Linked DNA regions of Homo sapiens. The protein of the gene in region 5 purifies or fractionates together with the protein of the main gene of each other region. This does not show direct contact. Each region holds a gene or a part of one and is shown on either strand. Other genes may lie near its edges.

Evidence for each region.
Region 1: the proteins of LAMP3 (region 5) and PCCA purify together in Homo sapiens (affinity purification with mass spectrometry; 2 studies listed by BioGRID and IntAct, with this or other methods). This does not show direct contact.
Region 2: the proteins of LAMP3 (region 5) and MARCHF5 purify together in Homo sapiens (affinity purification with mass spectrometry; 2 studies listed by BioGRID and IntAct, with this or other methods). This does not show direct contact.
Region 3: the proteins of LAMP3 (region 5) and ARFGEF1 purify together in Homo sapiens (affinity purification with mass spectrometry; 2 studies listed by BioGRID and IntAct, with this or other methods). This does not show direct contact.
Region 4: the proteins of LAMP3 (region 5) and HARS2 purify together in Homo sapiens (affinity purification with mass spectrometry; 2 studies listed by BioGRID and IntAct, with this or other methods). This does not show direct contact.
Region 6: the proteins of LAMP3 (region 5) and FASTKD1 purify together in Homo sapiens (affinity purification with mass spectrometry; 2 studies listed by BioGRID and IntAct, with this or other methods). This does not show direct contact.
Region 7: the proteins of LAMP3 (region 5) and FASTKD3 purify together in Homo sapiens (affinity purification with mass spectrometry; 2 studies listed by BioGRID and IntAct, with this or other methods). This does not show direct contact.

The regions. Positions count from the first base shown.
Region 1 is NC_000013.11:100,302,093-100,305,592, forward strand, and holds part of PCCA (propionyl-CoA carboxylase alpha chain, mitochondrial isoform a precursor), read left to right. Parts: intron 1-831; coding exon 832-906; intron 907-3,500. UniProt on the Homo sapiens protein: This is one of the 2 subunits of the biotin-dependent propionyl-CoA carboxylase (PCC), a mitochondrial enzyme involved in the catabolism of odd chain fatty acids, branched-chain amino acids isoleucine, threonine, methionine, and valine and other metabolites.
Region 2 is NC_000010.11:92,343,167-92,346,666, reverse strand, and holds part of MARCHF5 (E3 ubiquitin-protein ligase MARCHF5), read right to left. Parts: intron 1-3,500. UniProt on the Homo sapiens protein: Mitochondrial E3 ubiquitin-protein ligase that plays a crucial role in the control of mitochondrial morphology by acting as a positive regulator of mitochondrial fission and as an important regulator of immune response.
Region 3 is NC_000008.11:67,263,782-67,267,281, reverse strand, and holds part of ARFGEF1 (brefeldin A-inhibited guanine nucleotide-exchange protein 1), read left to right. Parts: intron 1-51; coding exon 52-191; intron 192-297; coding exon 298-406; intron 407-1,074; coding exon 1,075-1,276; intron 1,277-3,500. UniProt on the Homo sapiens protein: Promotes guanine-nucleotide exchange on ARF1 and ARF3. Promotes the activation of ARF1/ARF3 through replacement of GDP with GTP. Involved in vesicular trafficking.
Region 4 is NC_000005.10:140,694,455-140,697,129, reverse strand, and holds part of HARS2 (histidine--tRNA ligase, mitochondrial isoform 1 precursor), read right to left. Parts: intron 1,623-2,675; coding exon 1,497-1,622; intron 1,393-1,496; coding exon 1,285-1,392; intron 1,028-1,284; coding exon 929-1,027; intron 610-928; coding exon 516-609; intron 188-515; coding exon 60-187; intron 1-59. UniProt on the Homo sapiens protein: Mitochondrial aminoacyl-tRNA synthetase that catalyzes the ATP-dependent ligation of histidine to the 3'-end of its cognate tRNA, via the formation of an aminoacyl-adenylate intermediate (His-AMP).
Region 5 is NC_000003.12:183,145,735-183,149,234, forward strand, and holds part of LAMP3 (lysosome-associated membrane glycoprotein 3 precursor), read right to left. Parts: intron 1-3,500. UniProt on the Homo sapiens protein: Lysosomal membrane glycoprotein which plays a role in the unfolded protein response (UPR) that contributes to protein degradation and cell survival during proteasomal dysfunction.
Region 6 is NC_000002.12:169,556,866-169,560,365, forward strand, and holds part of FASTKD1 (FAST kinase domain-containing protein 1, mitochondrial), read right to left. Parts: exon of another isoform or gene 2,059-3,500; coding exon of another isoform or gene 2,048-2,058; intron 433-2,047; coding exon 322-432; intron 1-321. UniProt on the Homo sapiens protein: Involved in the down-regulation of mitochondrial MT-ND3 mRNA levels which leads to decreased respiratory complex I abundance and activity.
Region 7 is NC_000005.10:7,859,032-7,862,531, reverse strand, and holds the end of FASTKD3 (FAST kinase domain-containing protein 3, mitochondrial), read left to right. Parts: intron 1-474; exon of another isoform or gene 475-581; intron 582-728; exon of another isoform or gene 729-758; coding exon of another isoform or gene 759-879; coding exon 880-949; exon of another isoform or gene 950-1,047; intron 1,048-1,268; coding exon 1,269-1,383; intron 1,384-2,992; coding exon 2,993-3,097; 3' UTR 3,098-3,373; downstream 3,374-3,500. UniProt on the Homo sapiens protein: Required for normal mitochondrial respiration. Increases steady-state levels and half-lives of a subset of mature mitochondrial mRNAs MT-ND2, MT-ND3, MT-CYTB, MT-CO2, and MT-ATP8/6.

The DNA.
Region 1 (3,500 bases), on a different chromosome or scaffold from region 5:
TTAAATTGTAAAGCTTTTAGTAAAACATGTACTCTTAATTTATAATTTTAATTTTGGGTTTTACTCATAAACTCTCAGTTCAGTACTTCTAAATGCTTTTTTTCAAATGACTAAAACAAGAATGCAAGGTAACATTTGTACTATTTTTACTTTTCGACATCAAAAATGTCTGTCAAGATTAAAAATAAATCAGTGTCTGTGTTTAAGAATACTGAGAGCTGGTTTGAAATATTTTTCAAGGAGTTCAAAAATATGTTTTGGCGTGACTGTATTGCTCTTGCTTTTTTCATATTTTAAGTAGTATTACTTTCATTCTTATGACACTGAACCTGTTTATTCTGATGATCTAAGATATTTACAAATGAAGTGCATATCTAGTAGCGTGCAAAGTTTTTTTTTTCAGGTCTTTATTTGAAGAACCCAAATTCTCAAGTTTTACCATATGTGAACTGTTTTGAGAAGTAAGAAAAACAAATATCTTTAGTATACCACATTTGTTGTTCTAAACTTGAGTATGTTTTGATGTAGGGCCTAGGTTATTTTATTTTTTGCCCAAGGCATTCTAAGAAGTTTTATAAAATGTTGGAATTTTACCAATTTCAATAAAGTATGAACAAGGTCAGGCTAAATTCTGCTTACAGTTCTGTTTGATTTTTAAGTACATTCTAAGTTGTCTAGCGTAAAAGACAATAATATTCTGAAATCTGTGATTTGGTAAATACCATATGTTGAAAATAGACCTATAAATGGTTCTTCATTGTGTAAATATTTAACCTTACTTGTGCTGATTTATATTTCAAAGACTGTGCTTCCTTTCCTTTGAACTTTCAGGACCCCTACAAGTCTTTTGGTTTACCATCTATTGGGAGATTGTCTCAGTACCAAGAACCGTTACATCTACCTGGTGTAAGTCATTAAGCTGTAATACCAGCTGAAGGGTTAAAATCGTGATTTATGTCATACTTTTATGTTAAAGCATGTCAACACCAAAGGGTGTAAATTGAAGGACAAGTGAAATTCATGGGAATCATGGTTTTTGTGTTGAAAACAAATTTTTTTCAGTATTTTGTGGTGTTCAAGAAAGTCAGGATTCACTGGACAGGGGAAGCCTGGGGACATCTGATGATATAAATGATAGCTTACAGTGTTCCCAATTCTTTCGAAAATTATAATAAAAAAGGCTGTGAATCCTAAGAATGAGAAATGATGTTTTGTGTTACAATTTAATCTTTTCAATAAATCGAGTCCAACCCTGCTATATAGTCACTTGTCAAGAAATTCAAGCACAAAATCAGCTCCTTAATTGAAATTTAAGGAGATTGAATTAAGGCAAACAAAGTGTGCCTCAGTCTATTAAACCTCATGGACTTTAAAGAGTAATAATATTTATATCAGTTAAATAAAAGTGACCACTGTCCATTTTATTCCATAGCTCTTCTGTATTTAATAGCTATTTTGAAAATAGTTTTTGTTGCAGAAAAAGAGCAAGGACATACCCTTTTTCTTAATCAAGGTAATAAGTGCATATATATATATATATATGACATTATGTTAGCTAGTAGATGACAAGGCTGTACCATCTGTGAATATTCAAATTATTCATTTTGATTACTGGCATGAAGATGGTGAAAGATTACAGGAAGAATTCTAAATCTGAAGATATTATTGGATATATGATTTATTTCACTTTTTAAATTGTTTTTGCCCATGTGCTTTCTAAAGGGACTTGACCCTTTCTGTGCTTGGAGACTCCATGCTGTGTTCAAAGCCAGAAGGCAGAAAAAAAATTGTGAAGATTTAACAGGCATTATGTGACGTTAAATAGCACATGAGAAAACAAGTATCATAGGGACATATCTAAACACTTTTTTAATCAAACAAAAGAAGTATTAAATAAGAATTCATAATGATTACTCTAGTTGTTAGAAGTTTTCACCATGTTGTAATAGCTAACAGGATGTCAAACATTTTGCCCTCGCAAGTTTTTGCAATTTGCAATTTTCAAACGTGAGACCTGTTGAAAGTACAAGTGATAATGGACAAACTATACCCCCTACAGTCTTCATCCCACCAAATCTTTCTTCAATTAATGCTGCAGCAGGAGTTTTATGTAATAACATTTGCAGTTGTGAGCCATCCATAGAAAGAAAAAACAATTAAAATGCCTTAAATGTTCTGCTTACTGCTGTTATTTGCTTGTGTGAATGTTGCATGTCAGCTAAATGGACCAAGGAGTAGATAAAGTGATTGGGTGCAGGAGAGTGCACACTAAGCTTTGTCTATCATTATTGCTGGGAGCAATCAAATTGATGTCAGCAGGACAGTAGATGCGTTGACAGCTGTAATTATGTATCTCCATGGTGATCACTTTTGGCCTGTCATGGAGGCCCATGAGTCCCCTCCCTTGGAAGCATTTAATCAGATTGGGCTGTCACTTGTCAGGTAGACATGGCGGGCTGGGAGTTGTGCTTAGGGGGAGAGGTGAATTGAGAATGAAGGGTGGGAGATGTCTGATAGTTTCACAGAGTCCACTGTGGTACTGAAGACAGAAATTTTAATTATGCTAGAGGTTTCTGAGCAGTGGTTTGAGAATCTCGTACAGAGGTGCTTGGGTGTTTTGTTGTGGTTGTTATTGTTTGTTTTTCTTCCTTGTCTTATTAAAACTAGAGCAGTCAGTTTACCTTAGAAAACAATTTTTGGCTCTTACCTTTTTTGGTCACAAGAATGCATACTTAAGAGTTAACTTATGGTTTGTACTTTTCACATGCTTCATTAAGCCTGAGATTTATTAATATGGCAGAGGTGAAGATTTCCTTTTTTATTTTTGATCATCATGTTTTGTAAATTTGTTATTTTCAGACCACAGTTTTGTTCTGCTCAGAAATTTGGTTCTGATTTCATTTGAATTTTTTCTTAAAGTTTTTAGTGCAAATTTGTATAGCCTTTCATTGAAGGAATGGAGACTTGATCTGACTTCAGATTGGTTGTTAAGAAATAAAAATATAGCTGATTATTACTTGGAAAAAGCAGCATAAATAGTAAATTATAAAGCAGAGTTTTCATACTGTGGTACAGTTTTTAATTGGGAATACTGATTTGCTTATACAAAGATACGTGTTTATATATATCTTGATTTTATCGTATGTATTTTAAAGTTAAGATGACATAACTTCTGTGATCATAATATTAGTAAATAACAAAGACAGTTATATTTAATTAAGATCTGTAGGTAACACCTTATAGGATGATATTATTCAAGGCAACTGAAGTTTTAAGTAAGGAACTGTAGAAGAACATAATAAATATTCTTTATTGTCTATGTTATTTTATTTGTGGGTTGAACATCTAAGTTCTTCCTAGCTTTGTAGCAGTTTATGTAGCAAATGATAGGATGTAGTTAAAGTCAGAAGTTTTAGAACTTGTATCAGTCTCGTTTGTAAACACAGCATTAGCAAGCATGCTGTGGTTTTAAAGATGACATAGTGGTCAAATTAGCTCTT
Region 2 (3,500 bases), on a different chromosome or scaffold from region 5:
TATTAAAAATACAAGCCAGGCGTGGTGGTGGTCATCTGTAATCCCAACTACTCGGGAGGCTGAAGCAGGAGAATCGCTTGAACCCAAGAGGTGGAGGTTGCAGTGAGCCGAGATTGCACCAGCCTGAGCAACAAGAGTGAAACTCCATCTCAAAAAAAAAAAAAAAAAAAAAAAGAAGGAAATAGGGCAAAGAATGAGCAAAGGCCCAGTATTTCACTTGTTACAACTAAAGTGAAGAGAGATGCCCCATGCTCAAGCAAGTTAGAAGTGGGATGAGGCTCATCATTCACACATGCATTCATTCATTCACTGAATAATGATTTTGTGCTGGGGCTAAAATGGCAGGTTAAACAGATGTCTTTTGAAAGTGAGAGAAAATCAAACCAAACAAGTGTGCAAATATATACACTGTGAAGAAATAAGGTAGTATAACACCTGCAGTACACCACTTGCTAAAACAGTCATACTCAGGGGCAATAAATGAAAGGTGATTAAGCAATAGGCCTGATTTAATTTTGGCCAATACAAAGTCAGTGAACCTGTGTGTAATCACATACATTCTGCTTTCTTGTCCCAAGATTTAAAAACATTATTTTTAAGACTTCGATTTTGGGGTAAGCTCCAGGAATTATATAGAATGTCTAAGAATTTGTTATCTATGTATAAAATAAAGGCCTGGCTGGGCACAGTGGCTCACGCCTGTAATCCAAGCACTTTGGGAGGCTGAGGTAGGTGGGTAACTTGAGTCTAGGAGTTTGAGACTGGGCAACATGGTGAAACCCTGTCTCTACAAAAAATACAAAAATTAGCAGGGCGTGGTGGCATGTGTATGTAGTCCCAGCTGTGCAGGAGGCTGAGGTGGGAGGATCACCTGAGCCCAGGGAGTTCGAGGATGCAGTGAGCCGTGACTGCGCCACTGCATTCCAGCCTGGGTAACAGAATGAGACTCTGTCTCAAAAAAAAAAAAAAGAAAAAAAAAAAAGAGAAAAACAAAAGACCTATAGAATTGCAGGTTTAGAGAAAAATAATTTTTTGTTTTTCCTGCAGAAGGGCTAAAAGCTAGATTTTCATATCTAGGTAGGCCTGCAGTTCATTGCTGCTGAAAGGCTAACAGTTTTAATTAAGGTCTGAGCTTTTAAATTATTATTAGAATTCTACATTAATTAATTAGAGACAGAGTCTTGCTCTGTCGCCCAGGCTGGAGTGCAATCTTGGCTCACTACAACCTCTGCCTCCCAGGTTCAAGCGATTCTCACGCCTCAGCATCCGGAGTAGCTGGGAATACAGCCACTATGCCTAATTTTTTCTTTGTATTTTTGGTAGAGATGGGGTTTCATCATGTTGACCAGGCTGGTCTCCAACTCCTGGCCTCAAGGGTTCTGCCTGCCTCAGCTTCCCAACGTGCTGGGATTACAGGCATGAGCTACAGCACCTGGCCAGAATCCTAACAAGAGGATGAAACAGTGATGAAATAACAGGGTTTTTTTTTTTTTAACTCAGAATCAAGGATAAGTAAGTACTGTAATTAAGAATGGGCAATGCTAATGGGGGCTGTCTTTGCACTAGAGGCAAAAATGGGAACTAGGCTAAACATATTAAGGTTCCACTGTTCCAGGATAAAATGTTCCAGCTGCCTCTGGGACCAGGCTTCACTTAAGGAGCCAAGGGACAGGAGTCCTAATGCTTCTCTGCTGTGTGGCACTGGACCTGTAAACTCTCTAAACCAGTAAACTAGGAATAATTTATAACAATAATCTATGTCATAAAATTGTTGCAAGGGTTAAATGCATCAGTGCTAGGTGTTCAATACAGTGCCGAGAAAAAAAAATTATTGTGTTGTCTTTTCAATAAAAATGCAAGAGGAAGGTCCTATTCAAGTTCCCCACAACTAAAAAGTATTGATTCTATGACAGGTCCATGGAGAAGGAAAGAAAATAAATGGGAAAATAACAGTGATCTGATTCCTTGATTTGGTTTACTTGTACTGCAGGGTTGTTAAGGAATCAGAGAAAAACAATCAAGTGTTAGAAGGCAAACCCTAAATACTACTGATGGTGTAGAGGGGCACATTCTCTATCATATGTGCTCAGGAAGGTAAAAGTCATCTTCCCAATACTCTTAAATCACACAACACTATCCACCTACTGTCATAGCTAGTCTCATTTCTGGGCTAAAAAAAAAAAATCTTTTCAAGTGAGACATTACATGTGAAGGTTATTTCTAAATGGTAACACATATGTGTACTATAGTTTTTGCTTCCTTGCTTATTTCATTCTACCAATTCAAATTATTTCCTTTAAGGGTTAGCTCAAGACTTTTCTCATAATTTCAAATCAAATTATCTTTCACTTTTACTGAATTAAAATATTGTTTATATAGTCTTCTGCCCTCTTATCACATTTATCTATCTAACCTGTAACTGTTCTCCAGTGGTTTCATTTATGAACGTCTTGTCTTGGACTATATCCCTTGATGCTGGGGATCAGAGTTTTCAATTTATTTGTGTTTTAACAAGTGCCCCATTAATTATCAAAATTCTTTTAACATTGTGCCAGCCTAAAAATCTTTCTTAAAAAAGAGCCATCTCACTTCTTATGGTCAATAAAGTCTTAAGAAAATAACTCAATCTCATTTGCAAAATATATATATCTATATAATGTATTTGTACATTAAATAATGTATAATCTGCTCTAAGTTTCTATGTCTTTCTCAGTCTTAGTAAATCATCCTGATCCTCCCTCCTCAGGTGATGTACTAATACTCATTATTTGAAGTGGTCACATAAAAAACATAAAGACTGCCGGGTGCAGTGGCTCACACCTGTAATCCCAGCACTTTGGGAAGCAGAGGCAGGCAGATCATCTAAGGTCAGGAGTTCCAGACCAGCCTGACCAACATGGTGAAACCCCATCTCTACTAAAAAGACAAAATTAGCTGGGCGTGGTGGCACATGCCTGTAATCCCAGCTACTCGGGAGGCTGAGGCAGGAGAATCGCTTGAACCCGGAAAGCGGAGGTTGCGGTGAGCTGAGATCACGCCACCGTACTCCAGCCTGGACAACAAGAGCGAAACTCTGTCTCAAACAAAAAAACAAAAAACAAAACCACAAAGATTTATGAAACCCTTTAATGTGTTAGTTTCTATGTAGATGCTGTAACAGGGAATACAGAAGCATAAAATGGACTCTGCTTTCAAGGAAATTACCTCCTAACAGGAAAAATAAGGCCTAAAAACAAGAAAAGTTAAACAGATAATCTATATAAGAAATGTCACTTCATCAGGGCAGGACTAGCTGCCATTTGAGGAATAAAAATGTCATGAATGTGGGGGAAGAAGGAATCACAGCAGGCAGGAGTTGCCTGTAAGTTCTATGGAGGAAAGCTAGCTAAGCCTGGAAGGAGGGTTTAGATTTGGATAAGTACACAGAAGACTAGAAGGGCAGGTATTAGGTTGGGAAGGTGACGTAAGCCAAAGGACAGAGGTGAAAAACTACACAACAT
Region 3 (3,500 bases), on a different chromosome or scaffold from region 5:
GTACTCATATCCTAGATGTACTTTGTTGAAATTAATGTTATATTGTTACAGATGCTCAGAGTGTAGTGGATATTTATGTAAACTATGACTGTGACTTAAATGCAGCCAATATATTTGAAAGACTAGTAAATGATCTATCAAAAATTGCTCAAGGAAGGGGCAGTCAAGAACTTGGTATGAGTAATGTTCAGGTAAGAACTATAAAAACATTTTCAAATTTAAACTTTACCAGGAAAGAGTCATGTGTTTTCCTTAAAAGACCTTTAAAAAAAATTTTGTTTTTGAATTACTTTGTAGGAATTGAGCCTGAGGAAAAAAGGTTTAGAATGCTTAGTGTCGATTTTGAAGTGTATGGTTGAATGGAGTAAGGATCAGTATGTGAATCCCAACTCCCAGACAACTCTTGGTAAGGTGATATTTTGAGCTGTAATTCTTTGTCATTTTAAGTGAATAATACTTTGGAGGATAGTTGCAGCTGCTGTTAAACCAATTTCATGACATATTTATTCATTTAACTGATGAGGAAACATTCTCTGTGAGTTAAATGTCTAGCTTTAAAATTGTGAGATTTTTAACTTAGTTATCCAAACTATTTTTTTCTAAATCTTCTTAGAAATATTTTGATTATGTAAAATGAAGCATATTTATGCAACTTTCTTGTATTATAATTATAGAGGAAACATATAAAAGGCAGTATGTTTTAAGAAGGTTGAATTGTTCATCTGTGTTTGATGTTTACCCTCACTCAGAGAAAAACTCATAGCTGCAGGGCTACACTGGTATTATCGAAAACAATTCCTCATGAGGAGTGAGCTGAGAGCAGAAATCCAGTGGATACTCAGCACTGCAACTGCAAAAAGAACTCCTCCTAATGGTGCAGACTATACACGTACAAATTACAGTGTGTTTTAATATCAAAGTATGTTGTTTACTATGTTACCTAATAGTTATTTTGTATTAAATAGATATCTAAGCAACATTGAAACGCCTTGCCTTATTCAAGAATTTGTTTGCCCTTACACTTTTTTTTTTCTTTGATAGAATAATGTACTCTATCAATTTTTCTTCTTTCAGGTCAGGAAAAACCCTCAGAGCAAGAGATGAGTGAAATCAAACACCCTGAGACAATAAACAGATACGGAAGTTTAAATTCCCTGGAGTCAACATCATCATCAGGAATAGGCAGCTACAGTACACAGATGTCTGGCACTGATAATCCAGAACAATTTGAGGTCCTAAAGCAACAAAAAGAAATAATAGAACAAGGGATAGATTTGTAAGTGTCATAGCTTAAGGAGAAATGTTATTGAATATCTCTCTGCCAGTATAGTGCCACCCCTGCCGTGGGTTTATCACCTTATAATGAGTAAAATGGAGGATAGTTCTCATGGATCTAATTCACGAGGCTCCTATTCAGCCCCCCTTGTTCATTGCAGTCTAGCCCAACTAGATTCCTGTAATGCCCAACCACTCTTGTCATATAAATTAATTTGTCACCATATTATAAGTGCTGTTGATGGGTATCATCTGTGCAATTTTGCACTGTTTAGCTCATGACATCCCCCCATTATATTTTCTAATCATGTGACAACTCAAAACATTTAAAATATGAAACTTCTAATAGCTATCAGTACTCCTTTATAGGTCTTACATTTTTTCCAGCTGGCTTACAAATGTACTATTCTTGTTATTGATTTCATTTTTATATGTTGATGAGGTGATCACCTCTCTTCCAGCCTGGCTAGTGTACCGGATCCTAATCTTGTGAAGTCAGTTTTCCCACTAAGCTTTGTGATACCTGCCTGCTCCTGGACTATTTCCTTTGTGAATGTCACCATGCTGCCTTCCTTTCTCTTGTTGCCCATCTCTTTTTTTCAAAGAGATGCCATAAGGAAAAATGAAATTGTTTGCCGTCTCCATGAATCTAACTATTATAAACTTAAAAATTCCCCTGTGTGCTTACTTGGTTTGCTACTTCTGTAAAGCATTTCTTCCTGATACTTAAGCAGTGCCTTTTAGTGAATGTTCAGGTGTCTTTTTTCTCCAGTGTTAATATGAAAAACAGTTCAACAAAAATGTACACATATTCTATTTTAAAATTACAAAATCTTACCAAATTGCCTCAGGAAATAGCTGTCACTACTGCATTAATTCTAATTGTTCAGTCAATATTTATTAAAGTCTCATCTTTCCAGATATTATGCAAGATCCTGGGGAAACTAGATACATGGAAAAGCCCTTCCTTCTGAGAGGCTCTTGGTCTAGTGTGTGTAAACAAATATGCATATTGAAATTCTGCTGGTCACCCAGTAAACACATATTTGGTACTTGGGACTATTGCCAAGCACCATGAAGGCATTGGTCCTTGTATTCAAGATTGCATTCTAAACATGAGCAATTTTTAAAAATAGTACTGTGTAAATGTTTATAAAAGAGTGTCGTACAGAGTAAGTACTGCCAAGGTACTTATTTTGAAGTACTTGAGAAATGAGAAGGAGTAGTCAGAGGGCTTCGAAGTGGAAGTCTCCCAGTCCTTCTCTCAGCAGCTAGACTTGCTTTCTACTTAATACAGCCATTGATGAGAATGCTTTCATGGAACTGTATTCCTAGTATACTTGTCTACAACTGTTTCATGACACCAGTCTATCCTGTTTCTCTCCTACCTTTTTGACTATGCCGTCTCAGTCTTGTGGGCTGTTTTTTCTTTCTTCCTGCGTGCATCTTAGCATTGCCAGCGTTCTGTTCCTCAGCCCTTTTCCAACATCAGCCCCTTAGTTCTCCTACCCAAAACAAAAGACAAATAGAGAAGCCTGTTATTTTTGTATTTCTTATTTATGGTAGTAACCCCAGCATGCTACTAAATTTATAAGCTAAAATCCTGGGAGTTAGCTTAGATTTTCCCCTCAAAGGATTAGATTCTCGAATCTAATCTGTCACTAAGACTTGTTGATTATACTTCCTAATATCCCTGCAATCTGTACTCTTTTCTCGATCTCCCACCACTATTCTTGCAAATCAAATCATGATTATTTATTTCCTCAACTAGTATAATCTTTCAATTGGCTTACCTTTTTCTTTGGTTTTGTTCATTCTTCAGTCTTTTCCCATGCTTAACTAGAGTAACCTTTCTTGAATGAAAGTCTATTTTTTCCCTCTCTTAGAGAATAAAACCAAAGCTGCTTTGAAGGTATGATAATACCTTCATGATTTGGATCTGCTGGACTCTAAGCTTCATTTCCTGCCACTTTTCTGTCTCACCTCACTTTCCAACAATGCAGAACTATTTATTATATAATACTGTCTTGTGCTTTTGTGTTTTAGTATGGCTTCTTCCTCTCTTGCATGTTTTTTCTTATTGTTTATAAAAGATATAATTGTTCTTCAAAATAGTTCCAGAGTCACCTTTCCCAGGAAATATATTATGACCATCTAAGTTAGTTACTTCTACTGTGTTATTTTCTTACCTTGTGAATACATCTATTTGTCACAGTTTTAGTATT
Region 4 (2,675 bases), on a different chromosome or scaffold from region 5:
GACTCGGGACCCTGAGAGCCCTAGAGCTCAGCAGGAGGTCCATTTGCAATTCAGCTTACCTTATCAGCAATTCCAAATAAAGTCAGGTATTCAAATAGCAGCTTTAGGTCTCCCAGGCCCTCCAGGGCCTGCTTGTTCTGGGATAGTCTGGGATCCTGAAACATTTGCTCTACTAGGGATACCCCACCTGGAGAGAAATAAAGTCTCTGCTGTTCACTCACATGTGTTTCATTCAAAATTATCCCTAATGTGCTCTAGCTAGTCTTCCTCATTTTCTTTAAAAAAAAAAAAAAAAAAAAAAGATCCCAGTCTCACATGACAAGACCCTCCTCCTTTGCCTCTAGCTTTGCCATCTGAAGACACAAAGTCGTTACAATAAGTAAAAGAGAAATTAAATTCAGGACAGGCCCTGGAGCTTAGCATATCTACAGAAAAGAGTTGTTTCAGAGGTAGAATTTGAGCACATGTCACCTTCAGCCTGGTTCTATCACAGCTCTGAAAACCCTGGTTCTTACCATGACACTGGACATAGTCCCCAATTCGATCAGCCACCTCAGGAGCCAGGCCTTTCTTCACCACCATCTCATGTCTCACATCTTTCCAAGCCATCTGCATAAACACCCAAACATTAGCCCAGCCCCAAGATCTTTCTTTCTCAAACTGAAAAAGGACAACTCAACTTCCATTCAGTATATACATCACAAGTAGCTAACTGTATACTCAGCAAAGTCAGAGACAGCTTAAGAAATCCAGTCACAATCCCCACTGTATAGCATGACTCAGATCTTCCTTCAGAGTATGCCTCCTTACCTTCCACCCCAAAATAGCCCACTTCCAGCCACAATCTCCTTATTTTTCACTAGTGGTATGGATTTGAGGGCAGGGCAGAAGCTAGATAGGGTCTACTGAAGTATGTCTTCTTTGTTACCTTGTCTAGTTTATCTATGGAGGAGCAGATGGCACGGAACTTGCTTTCAGGAACACCACAGACAGCAAACATCCCATCCACAATCCGCCGGTCATTTACCTGAGAACTCAATGTCAGTGACCCAAGTGCTTGTCAATGCCCTTCCACTCAAAACAATGGCAGTACCTACTTTCCTGACACACAAAAAGGATGGAAATTTCACAGGAAGAGTACAGACATATAGGAAATACAACAGCTTTACTAGGAAAGTCCTACAGTTGCAGGCTTAAGGGTTGGAGTCACCCAAGTTTGGGACTTGCATAAACAGTATTAGGCCAAATCCAGACTTCTCCCACAGTTCTCAGCCCTGGCCTCACCTTAATGAGAAAGTCTCCCAACTGCAATCCACTTAGGATTTCACACATGATCTTCAAACACTCTGCATCGGGGATCATAGGGTCAAACTGACCAGCAATGTCAAAATCCTACAGCAAAGAAAAAGATGGGAAAAAACATCCATTATCCAGCCAGTTTCAAGGTTGTGGCCCCTAGAACTATCAAACTGTGCTGCTCCCATCAGGTCACTTACACACTGGCAGAACTCCCTATAACGGCCTTGGACTATGGTTGGGCTCTCTCGCCGCCACACCTTTCCAACATGATAACGTTTCATCTTCTTCACCTTATTCATGGCCAGATAACGAGCAAAGGGAACCTCACATAAATGGGTTAAGGAAGAGGGATACTGCATCCAAAGATTAGGCCCAGTATACAGACATTAGGGAGGACTGGGCCTGGATCTCATCCACTAGGGTAAGAACAAGGACCTTCCCTTTTTTCCACTATCCCCAAGGCCTAGCAGTGCTTGGAATTCAATATATATTGAATAGTGTCAAATGAAGGAATCTCACCTAGCAAAACTAAAAGTTCAGCAGAAAGCAAGGCAAGTAGAGATAGAAGTGACCCAAGAACTAACTTCAGGTCTTTCTGCCCATTCAGATCGATTCCGAACCATCTCAAAATAGTCAAGCTTCAGAACTTGGATTTGCCTAACAACTTCTAAGCTACTGGTTCTGAAAGTGCAGGGAAAGGACTACATGCATCTTAATTACCCACGATGCTTGTTTAAAATGCAGACTGTAGGCCAGATGCAGTGGCTCACACCCGTAACCCCAGCACTTTAGGAGGCCAAGATGGGAGGATCACTTGAAACGATGAGTTTACAACCAGCCTGGGCAACAAAGACACCCATCTCCACAAAAAAAATTTTTTTTTTGAGACAGAGTTTTGCTCTTGTCACCCAGGCTGGAGTGCAATGGCGCAATCTCGGCTCACTGCAACCTCTGCCTCCTGGGTTCAAGTGATTCTCCTGCCTCAGCCTCCCTAGTAGCTGGGATTACAGGCACCTGCCACCACAGCCAGCTAACTTTTTACGTCAAAAGAGATCTGTGGAGACAAGGTGACAGTCAGTCCCAAACTAGACTCAGAACCTGAGAGCCCCAGAGCTCAGCAGGAGCTGAGTAGAGATGGGGTTTCACTATATTGGCCAGGCTGGTCTTGAACTCCTGACCTCAGGTGATCCACCTGCCTCAGCCTCCCAAAGGGCTTGGATTACAGGCGTGAGCCACGTGTCTGGCCAAAAAAAACAATTTTTTAATACAAATTATTGAGCCCCATTCCAGCTACAGAATTAGCTAAGAATCTCTGGGACTGCAGCCAAATGTCTGTGCTTCTGCAAGCTCCCCCAAAGGATTATGATACACACTAG
Region 5 (3,500 bases):
TAATCCCAGCTACTCGAGAGGCTGAGGCAGGAGAATCACTTGAACCCAGGAGGCAGAGTTTGCAGTGAGCCGAAATCATGTCATTGCACTCCAGCCTGGGCGACAAGAGCAAAACCTGGTCTCAAAAACAAACAAACAAACAAAACCCTACAGATTGAAAGCGGGAACTATAGCCTATATTTCTGTTATTTTTCTTTCATAGCCAAGCTCATTGTTAGGGACAAAGTAGGTGCTCAGTAAATTCTTACTAATAAACGAGTTGATAAATCAGGCCTAATCAACATCCATTTATCATTCTACAACTTAGCTCTCATAACATCTATTATATTATAATGAATAAACTCACATTTTCTAAGGTTCTCTTTTTCTCTAGAGCTGTGGTTTTCAACTGCACATGATTTTTGCCTCCTAGGAGACATTTGACAATGTCTGGAGACATTTTGAGTTGTCAGACTGGGGTGGGCAGTTGCTCCTGACATCTTGGAGATAGAGGCCAGAAATGCTGCTGAGCATTTTTCAAGGCACAAGGTAGTCCCCACACAAAGACTTATCTGGCCTCAAATGTTAATACTGTTGCTGTTGAGAAGTGCTGGTTTAGAAAGCAGCAACATTTCAAAAGCGACTGACTGAATGGTTGAGTCCATTTCTCTTTTGGAAAAATCTAGAAGGCTTTCTTACCTAAATACACTTCATACAATACACCCATTAGGGCAGAAGTCACAGGGTCAGAATCCACAGGCCAAATCTGGCCTTCAGTTGTATGTTTTTTGGCCAGCATGGTGCTCAAATTTTTTTTTTTTTTTTTTTTTTGAGACAGAGTTTTGCTCTTGTTGCCCAGGCTGGAGTGCAATGGCACAATCTCGGCTCACTGCAACTTCCGTCTCCTGGGTTCAAGCGATTCTCCTGCCTCAGCCTCCCTAGTAGCTGGGATTACAGGAATGCGCCACCACGTCCAGCTAATTTTTGTATTTTTAGTAGAGACAGGGTCTTGCCATGTTGGCCAGGCTGGTCTTGAACTCTTGGCCTCAGGTGATCCACCCACCTCGGCCTCCCAAAGTGCTGGGATTACAGGTGTGAGCCACTGTGCCCGGCCCTCAAATTTTTAAAAATGTGTTGCCAACATTAAAAAAAGTGCTTTTCTGGAAAGATCTAGATTTCTGCCTTATCTGGAACAATCAGAAGATCTGGCAATACCACCCTCTCCTTACCACCTGATTGAGGGGACATGTAAAATATTGAGCAACTGTGCCTGTTATTCCAGCACTTTGGGAGGCCGAGGCAGGTGGATCACGAGGTCAGGAGATCGAGACCATCCTGGCTAACATGGTGAAACCCCATCTCTACTAAAAATACAAAAAATTAGCCGGGCGTGGTGGCATGCACCTGTAGTCCCAGCTACTCGGGGGACTGAGGCAAGAGAATCGCTTGAACCCAAGAGGCGGAGGTTGCAGTGAGCCAAGATCGTGTCACTGCACTCCAGCCTGGGCAACAGAGTGAGACCCCGTCTAAAAACAAAGAAAAAAAAAATATTGAACAACTGGCACAGAAGGGAAGTCACTGAGAATGGACATTGGACCATCCCAAATAAATGCCATAAAAGACACTGATAATCCCCGGGGCTAGACACCAGCCCTGCCATTTGCACCATCTGCAGAGCTAACTCCTAGGGAGATGAGCACTCTCCTGTCCCTCCCTTTTGTCTCCCAATTTCTGAGTCCTTCTCAGTTGCTTCATTACTTTGTGCTTACTTTAATATTTTTCTTATTAGATTGAATGGGAATTGAAATCTTTCTTGTCTTTAATTTTTGATGAAGACATATTTTGATCTTCATCAAAACTGGTAAAATAAAAATTTAGGACTGCTTGTTTCAATGAAAACAATTTTTTTTTTTTTACTAGCTTGCTTTGCTCATTAGGTTATATGCCTAGCACCTGTAATTCTTGAATTCAGGGTCCCTGTTTTGGCTTAAACAAGCTCTTATTGATTGATGTCTTTTAGAAACGGAGTCTCACTCTATCACCCAGGCTGGAGTGCAACGGCACAATCATAGCTCATTGCAGCCTTGACCTCTTAGGCTCAAGCAATCATCCCACCTCAGCTTGCATGTGGTAGCTGGGACCACAGGTACACGTCACCATGGCTAGCTAATTTTTAAATTTTTTGTAGAGATAGGGTCTTGCTATGTTGCCCAGGCTGATCTCAAACTCCCGGGTTCATGCAATCATTCCACCTTGGCTTCTGACAGTCCTGGGATTACAGGTGTGAGTCACCACTCCAGCCAAGTTCTTTTTTAAAATGCAGAAATTCAAAGGTGCCAAGAACATACATTGAGGAAAGGACAGTGTCTTCAATAAATGGTGCTAGGAAAACTGGGTATCTATATGCAGAACAATGAAACTAGACTCCTATCTCTTGCAATGTACAGCAATCACATCAAAATGGATTAAGGACTTAAATCTAAGGCATCAAACTTTGAAACCACTAAAAGAAATCACTGGGAAACTCTCCAGGACGTTGGTCTGGGCAAAGATTCCTTGAGTAATACGCCAAACCACAGGCAACCAAAACAAAACTGGACAAATGGGATTACATCAAGTTAAAATGCTTCTGCACAGCAAAGGAAACAATCAACAAAGTGAAGAGACAACCCACAGAATGAGAGAAAACGTTTGCAAACCATCCATCCGACAAGGGATTAACAACCAGAACATAGAAGAAGCTCAAACAACTCAACAGTAAAATATCTAATAATTTGATTTTAAAAATCTAATAATTTGATTAAAAAAATTAAATGCAAAAGATCTGAACAGACATTTCTCAAAAGAAGACATAAAATGGCATACAGGTCTATGAAAAGGTGCTCAACACCACTGATCATAAGAGAAATGCAAATCAAAACTACAATGAGATGTCATCTCACCCCAGTGAAAATGGCTCTTATCCAAAAGATAGGCAATAACAAATGCTGGTGAGGATGTGGAGAAAAGGGAACCCTCATACACTGCTGGTGAGAATGTAAATTAGTAGAACCAAGATGGAGAAAAGTTTGGATCCTCAAAAAACTAAAAACAGAGCCACCATATGATCTTGCAATCCAACTGCTAGATATATACCCCAAAGAAAGAAAATCAGTATATCGAAGCGATCTGCTCTCCCACATCCATTCTAGCACTGTTCACAACAGCTAAGGTTTGCAGGCAACCCAAGTGGCCATCAACATATGAATGGATAAAGAAAACATGGTACATGTACACAATAGAGTACTATTCAGCTGTAAAAAAGAATGAGATCCAGTCATCTGTAACAACCTGGATGCAACCGGAGGTCATCATGTGAAGTGAAATAAGCCAGGCACAGAAAGACAAACTTTGTACCTTCTCACTTATTTGTGGAAATTAAAAATTAAAATAACTGAACTCATGGAGATAGAGAGTAGAATGATGGTTACCAGAGGCTGGAAAGGGTAATGGGTGGGGTGGGGGAAAAGGGGATGGTTAAT
Region 6 (3,500 bases), on a different chromosome or scaffold from region 5:
GCATGGTGGTGGGCGCCTGTAGTCCCAGCTACTCAGGAGGCTGAGGCAAGAGAATTGCTTGAACCAGGGAAGCAGAGGTTGCAGTAAGCAGAGATAGTGCCACTGCACTCCAGCCTGGGCAACAGAGTGAGACTCTGTCTCAAAAAAACAAAAAAAAAAAGAAAAGAAAAACAAAGTAGAACATAAACAGTGGCTTAAGCATTAATTCCTTATTTCTTCAAAACAACTGGTAGATTAAAGAAGAAAACCATTTTTCCTTAGAAAAAAATAGGTGCTTGTGAATGACAACAAACTTAACGTCGTAAATTTCAGAAAAGATACCTTTTAATCAGACATGAGTTTCTGCTTTCCATATCTCCCATTGCTCCCAACACTGCCAGGGCTTGCTCGCCAGTTAGGTCCTCTGACATCAATAACATAGTTGATTTAAGTCTAGAAGCAAAAAAAAAAAAGTTTTTGGTTGAAAGACTGAAAATTAGCTTGCAATTTTTTTTAAATAACAGTTCTTGGGTAACAAATAGGAAAAAAAATATAAACAAAAACTGAATCCAATATATAATTCTAGTGTTCTCCCCACATTACTCGAATATAAAATATTACTGAATAAAGAAAAATATATTGTCTTCTTCAATGAAATTCAGGCCTCATTATAATCCAATCTTAAACTGTTTGAAAAATACAGGTAAAAGATATTTTAAGATTTTCAAATAATACAAGGTTATAATGGTTATAAAATACTATGATTCAGTGAAATTATTCAATACTAGAGAGCTAAGAAATGAACAGTTGATATTCTGACAATTTCCCAAATGTTTTAAAACTGAATAGGAACATCTAGGAGTCAATAAACCTGCATATTATCAGAAATCTCATATACTAAGCACTTGATATAACAGTATAAACTGAAAATTAACAAAGCTGGTCCATTTTGACTATGATTAGTTGTCATTTGAACTATCCAAAGTAGTGCAGTAATGTTAAGTACCATGATACGTGTATTTTTTAGAATCATTTAGAAAGCAAGCTCGAAACGTGACATCTGATAGGATAAACTAATTGTCTATTCACATGGATAACTCCATGCCATCCTTTCCACCAACCTTTTCAAAGGTTTCAAACCCAGTTTCTCCACAAACTTTTCCCAACCACTTCAGTCTATATTTTTCTCTCACTTCTGTCTGCTCACAGCACTATCCATATCACTAATTTTATTGTTTCTTCATAAACTATGTTGTTACAGTATTTACATATTTCAATTATATCTATCCTCTCAATTGCAATATAAATTCCTTGAAGACAGACTCAGTTAAACCCAACTGTTTTATTGCTTTAGCACTGAGATTTTAACAGTACTTGGTGACAAAAAACGGTTCCAATAAAGTTTGTTCGTGTGTGTGTTTCTTCGTCTGTTTTGAGATGGAGTCTCACTCTGTTGCCCAGGCTGGAGTGCAGGAGCATGATAGCTCACTGCAACCTCCGCCTCCCAGGTTCAAGCGATTCTCCTGCCTCAGCCTCCAGAGTAGCTGGGATTAGAGATGCCCACCATTGCACCTGCCATCACTCCCGGCTAATTATTTTTTGTATTTTTTTGTTTGTTTTTTGAGACAGAGTTTCGCTCCTGTTGCCCAGGCTGGAGTGCAATGGCGCAATCCTGGCTCACTGCAACCTCAGTCTCCCAGGTTCAAGCGATTCTCCTGCCTCAGCCTCCCAAGTAGCTGAGATTACAGGTGCCCACCACCACGCCCGGCTAATTTTTTATATTTTTACTAGAAACGGGGTTTCACCATGTTGGCCAGGCTGGTCTCGAACTCCTGACCTCAAGTGATCCAACCGCCTCAGCCTCCCAAGGTGCTGGGATAACAGGCATGAGCCACCACACCCGGCCCTTTTTTTTTGTATTTTTAGTAGAGTCGGGGTTTCACCATGTTGGCCAGGCTGGTCTCAAACTCCCGACTTCAAGTGATCTGCCAGCATTGGCCTCCCAAAGTGCTGAGATTACAGGTGTGAACCACCGTGCTGGGCCCCAATAGTTTTTTTTAATAATCACCTTGTTTCCATCTTGATATAGTCTTAAGATGTGCTCTTAAATTTTTTCATATAATTCAAAGTACTTTTTTTTTTTTTTTGAGTCAGAGTTTCGCTCTTGTTGCCCAGGCTGGAGTGTAATGGCGCGATCTTGGCTTACTGCAACCTGCACCTCCCGGGTTCAAGCGATTCTCCTGCCTCAGCCTCCCGAGTAGCTGGGACTACAGGCGCTGCCATCATGCCCGACTTATCTTGTATTTTTAGTAGAGACGGGGTTCCTCCATGTTGGTCTGGGTGGTCTTGAACTCCCGACCTCAGGTGATCCACCTGCCTTGGCCTCCCAAAGTGCTGGGATTACAGGCATGATCCACCGCACCCAGCCACAAAGTACTCTTAAAAAATAAAACTTTCTCCGTAAAGTTTTCCCTAACAGAGTAATGATACAGATTCCCCTATTGTGCAAGTCTTGGAACCCCTGCTTAAGTGAATCTACTAATCATACTTATGTGTTAGGACTATTATATAAAATTCTTATTTTTTTCTTTTATTTTTTCTTTTGAGACAAGGTTTCATTCTGTGCCCAGGCTGGAATTCAATGGCGCAATGTCAGTTCACTGCAGGCTCAACCTCCTTGGGCTCAGGTGATCCTCATGAGTAGCTGGGAATCTAGGTGGGCACCACCACATCTGGCTAATTTTGTATTTTTTTGTACAGACAAGGTTTCATCATCTTGCCTAGGCTGGTCTCAAATTCCTGGGATCCAGGGATCCACCTGCCTCGGCCTCCCAAAGTGATGGGATTAAAGGCGTGCAACGCCGTGCCCAGCTTGTAATTCTAAATATTTCATACAATTATGCTGGGTGGGGGAAGTTTATGTCTAGTATAAATCCAGTCACATGGCCTAGGAAGAGAAACTCTTATCTATTAACCGTATTTGTATGTTAATTTAATATTTGCTCATCATTATATTTCAAATATTACTACCTACATCAGTATCTAGCAAAACTGGAAATTCCTAAATGAGAGGCGCCACACAAAATTTGCTCAAACCTGACATGGGAACATATGCCCAGTGCATAATAAATGCTTTGATGATTATTGTGATGAAGACAGCAAAGCATAAAATGGCCCTCTGCTATGACTACTATAATTCTAAATATTCCACAGACTTACACTGGGTGGGGGAGTCTTATATGTGTAAATCCAGTCATGTAGCACAAAAGGGAGAATAAAAACACATGGCGTTTCCCCTCATTTTTTTTCATGTTGGCCCAGTATCAGAGGTTTACCTTTCAGAACACAGCAACAGACTAAGAGTTTGAGATGTAAATTAGAATAATCAGAAAAAGAATCAAGGAGCAGAGCATAAGAGATTATTTTCCCTTCCACAACCTAATAGGGTGATATTTGTACCTTCCAGAGCTGCAAGGAGACCTAAGCTTGAAGGCTCCACGTATTCACAACAAAAAAAGTAA
Region 7 (3,500 bases), on a different chromosome or scaffold from region 5:
GGTCTAAATAAAATAGTACCTGGAACGTAGGAAATGCTCACTAATTGTTAGCTACTACTATAACCTAGGCTTGTACTGTCCAAATATAGTAGCCACTAGACCATGTGGCTATTTAAATTTAAATTATTAAAAGTTTAAGAAAATTCAATTCCTCAGTCACATTGTAAGTGCTCAGTAGCCACATGTGGCTCATGGCTGCCAAATTGGACAGCACCATTATAAAGATTTCCACATCACAGAAATTTCTCCTGGACAGCACTGACAAGAGACTCCAAGTCCTCCGTCCTTACAGTTCTTCTAACTTGATGAGCAGAAGAAAGCCTTCTCGTAAAGGACAGCAGTTCATAGGCTTCAGATGGTCACTTCTCTTCTCTTTACGAAGGGAACTGCAGTTTACCAGAGGGGAAGGACAGTTCGGAAGCCTTCCGTGCTCGCAGACCAGGTGTCTGGGTGTGGCATGCTTTCTTTACTTACCATGGAGGCACTGCAAGTTGGAATGATGGAAGTTATGAGTTGCACAGATGTCTAATGTCTTAACTCAAGGGTTTTCTTCACAGTCTGGATTGAAGGATCTCTGCCACCTATCATAAGGGGAAAGAGAAAGCATGCATGGTTCTTGTCATACCCCAGATAACTTCAGAACCCATTCTGTGGTTTAGCGTTATTGAGCTTTCTTAATTTAAGGCTGACTTGATTGATCATAAAGCCAATTGAATTAAAATTCTCACCATTGTTTGGTTGTGGTCATTACTTTGCAGCCTTCAGTCCAATTGATCAATGCAAGGTGGAAGGAATCAAAGCAAAGCAAAGGAATGAATACAGGAAGATAGTGTTTGTGAGGGTATCACACGAGGAATTTTTCCTTTCTTCTCTCACCAGATGTTGAAATTAAATTAGATGAAGAAGGATTTGTATTGCCATCCACAGCTAATGAAGATATCCATAAAAGGTACAGGAAAATGTTGTGTTTTTCACATTACAAGACTCGTTGAGGCTAATAAGCAGCGGTATCTTTTTCTCAAGAAGGTGAAAAAAATAGATATGATTCTGGAAATTAAAATACTACATTTCAGAATACCATGTTGGGAAATTCCTTGTAATATTTTATAAACATTAATATTAATAAGATCAAATTCATGATTCATTTGAAAATAATATTGGCACATAGTAATAGCCAAATCCCAAATAAACTTTGGCAACTAAAATATATAATAAATATTTTGGATTATTTAAAAAATTAAGTATTTTTCTCCTTTTTTATTTTTCAGGATAGCACTGTGTATTGATGGTCCAAAAAGGTTTTGCTCCAATAGCAAACACTTACTGGGGAAAGAAGCTATTAAACAAAGACACCTACAGTTACTCGGTTATCAAGTTGTTCAGGTACGGTTTCACCTATTTTTTTTGTTTCCCAAAAGCAAATCCTATTTCAAAATTATTTTTCCAGGTTACTTTTAAAAAGTAATCTGAGGCACAGTAAAATTTTAAAGAATTTGATCAGGCAGCAATTATTGAACTGGACAGCACAAAACTCGAAATGGCTTGGGAACCCAAGAGGGAGGCTTTTATAGGAAGAACACAAGTACACAAAGAATCTACTTGACTGGTTACAGTTACATATTCTTGCTGCCTTGTTTGAACTATTCTGTGGAAAGTTCCTAGTTATATAATTATTAGTTTGTGAGATGCTTCTGATTGGTTGAGCTTAAGTTCTGTTTTTCTGTAGTAGAAGCTTCTACAAGAAATAGCCCAAGTTAAATTTTGCTTAACATTTGCACTTTAAGCAAAGTTAAGGTTATTTTCAAGGCCCAACTGGCTTGGTCTGCTCAGGGATTTTTCAGGCACAGGCTCCATTTTAATTTGCTTTTACAGTACTAACTGGTTTGCCAGCCCAGTGGACCACCGATCTTACGTCTAGTTTAAATCCCAACGTTGTTAATTCGGCTTAAATCTCTTGACTTATATTTTGAAATACAGAATTTTCAGAGCTTTGATTTTTCAAAAGTGGGGCCTACCTATATTCATTATAAGCTATGCTTAACCCTGCTTTTAGAATTACTCAATTGTTGGAATATATGTTCTGTTTTAATTTCTCCTTGATTTAATAAATAAAAATGAACAAGATAATCCATTAAAATAAGGAGCTTCACCAACACTTAATATTTAAGACCTTTTAAATATTTCACTGTAGATAATGTAAGAAGGTCTTATGTGAGGGCTCAGCAGTGCGTGAGAATGAGCGCTGCCCTAATTCTCTAAGCTGTCAGTACTAGGCAGCACTGTGGTTTCATATCTGCTGACTTTTTTCTCCATCTTGCACATCCCCAGCTGAATATTCCTAAAACTAATCATGCCAGTGTCTACTCAGAAGCTTCAATGTTTCTTTACTGCTTACAGAATAAAGTAAAAACTTCTCTACATCTTAACATTCAAGACCCTCCAATGGTTGGCCTGCAGCCAGGCTGCAGGCACATGATTACTACCTGGCCCCTCTGCTCCCAGCTGAGCAGACTCTCTCCTTTGCTGCGCCTCCTGCTCTCTCCCTCTTCATTCCCTCTTTGTCCCTGCTGCGTCCTCCAGCTCTCTGAATACCTACCTTCCAGCAGTTTGTCGGCATCCCCACCCTCATCTAATGAAATGCTCACTCCCTCTTAGCACTAGATCACCAACCTACAGCTTGTTTTTTATATTTATTGTGTAATTTAACTTGCCACCCAAGTTGTGAACTCCTGGAGAACAAGAGATCATGTTTAATTCTTATTTGCATATTCTACATATTAATTCATCAAATATTTACCAAGCCCCTTCTCAGTGCCAGGCACTGTTCTAGACATTGGGGATACAGGATGAAGAAGCTGGTTGGGATATTTGCCTTCCAGGAGCTTACATTCCGCTGTGGGGAAGCGTGTAAGAAACAAACAAAGTAACCAATAGCCAGAGGAACCTCAGATTTTGAAGGATCTTGACCAGTTTTACTTTTCTACCTTTACAGATCCCCTATCATGAGATTGGGATGCTAAAATCAAGACGTGAATTGGTGGAATATTTACAAAGAAAACTGTTTTCTCAAAACACTGTTCATTGGTTGCAAGAATGAATACTGACTTCAGAACTCAAACAATGGAAGAACTTGCATTTTTATGGAACTCAGTATTAAAAGAAAAATATAATGTGAATTAGCCACTTTGCAGAATATGTTCTAGACTGGTGATCTGAAAGCATCTGTAGTTTTCCTTATACTATGTATACATTTATTGTGGTAAAATTTAAAATTAATTTTAATTTAATACTAGTGTCATAGATACTTTTTGTACATCAAACAATTGATCATGTGCTGTAAAGGAATTCAATGAATAAATGTTATTTTTAAGTATTTTGTCATAGTTATCTGCTAAATGAAAATATTTTGCTCTTTAGAGACCTTTTGTTTTCTAACAGATGGAGGAAATTTTTTCTCTTTGTGTGCTGTGAGTGGAAGTGAGATTTACCGTAAGGAAAAG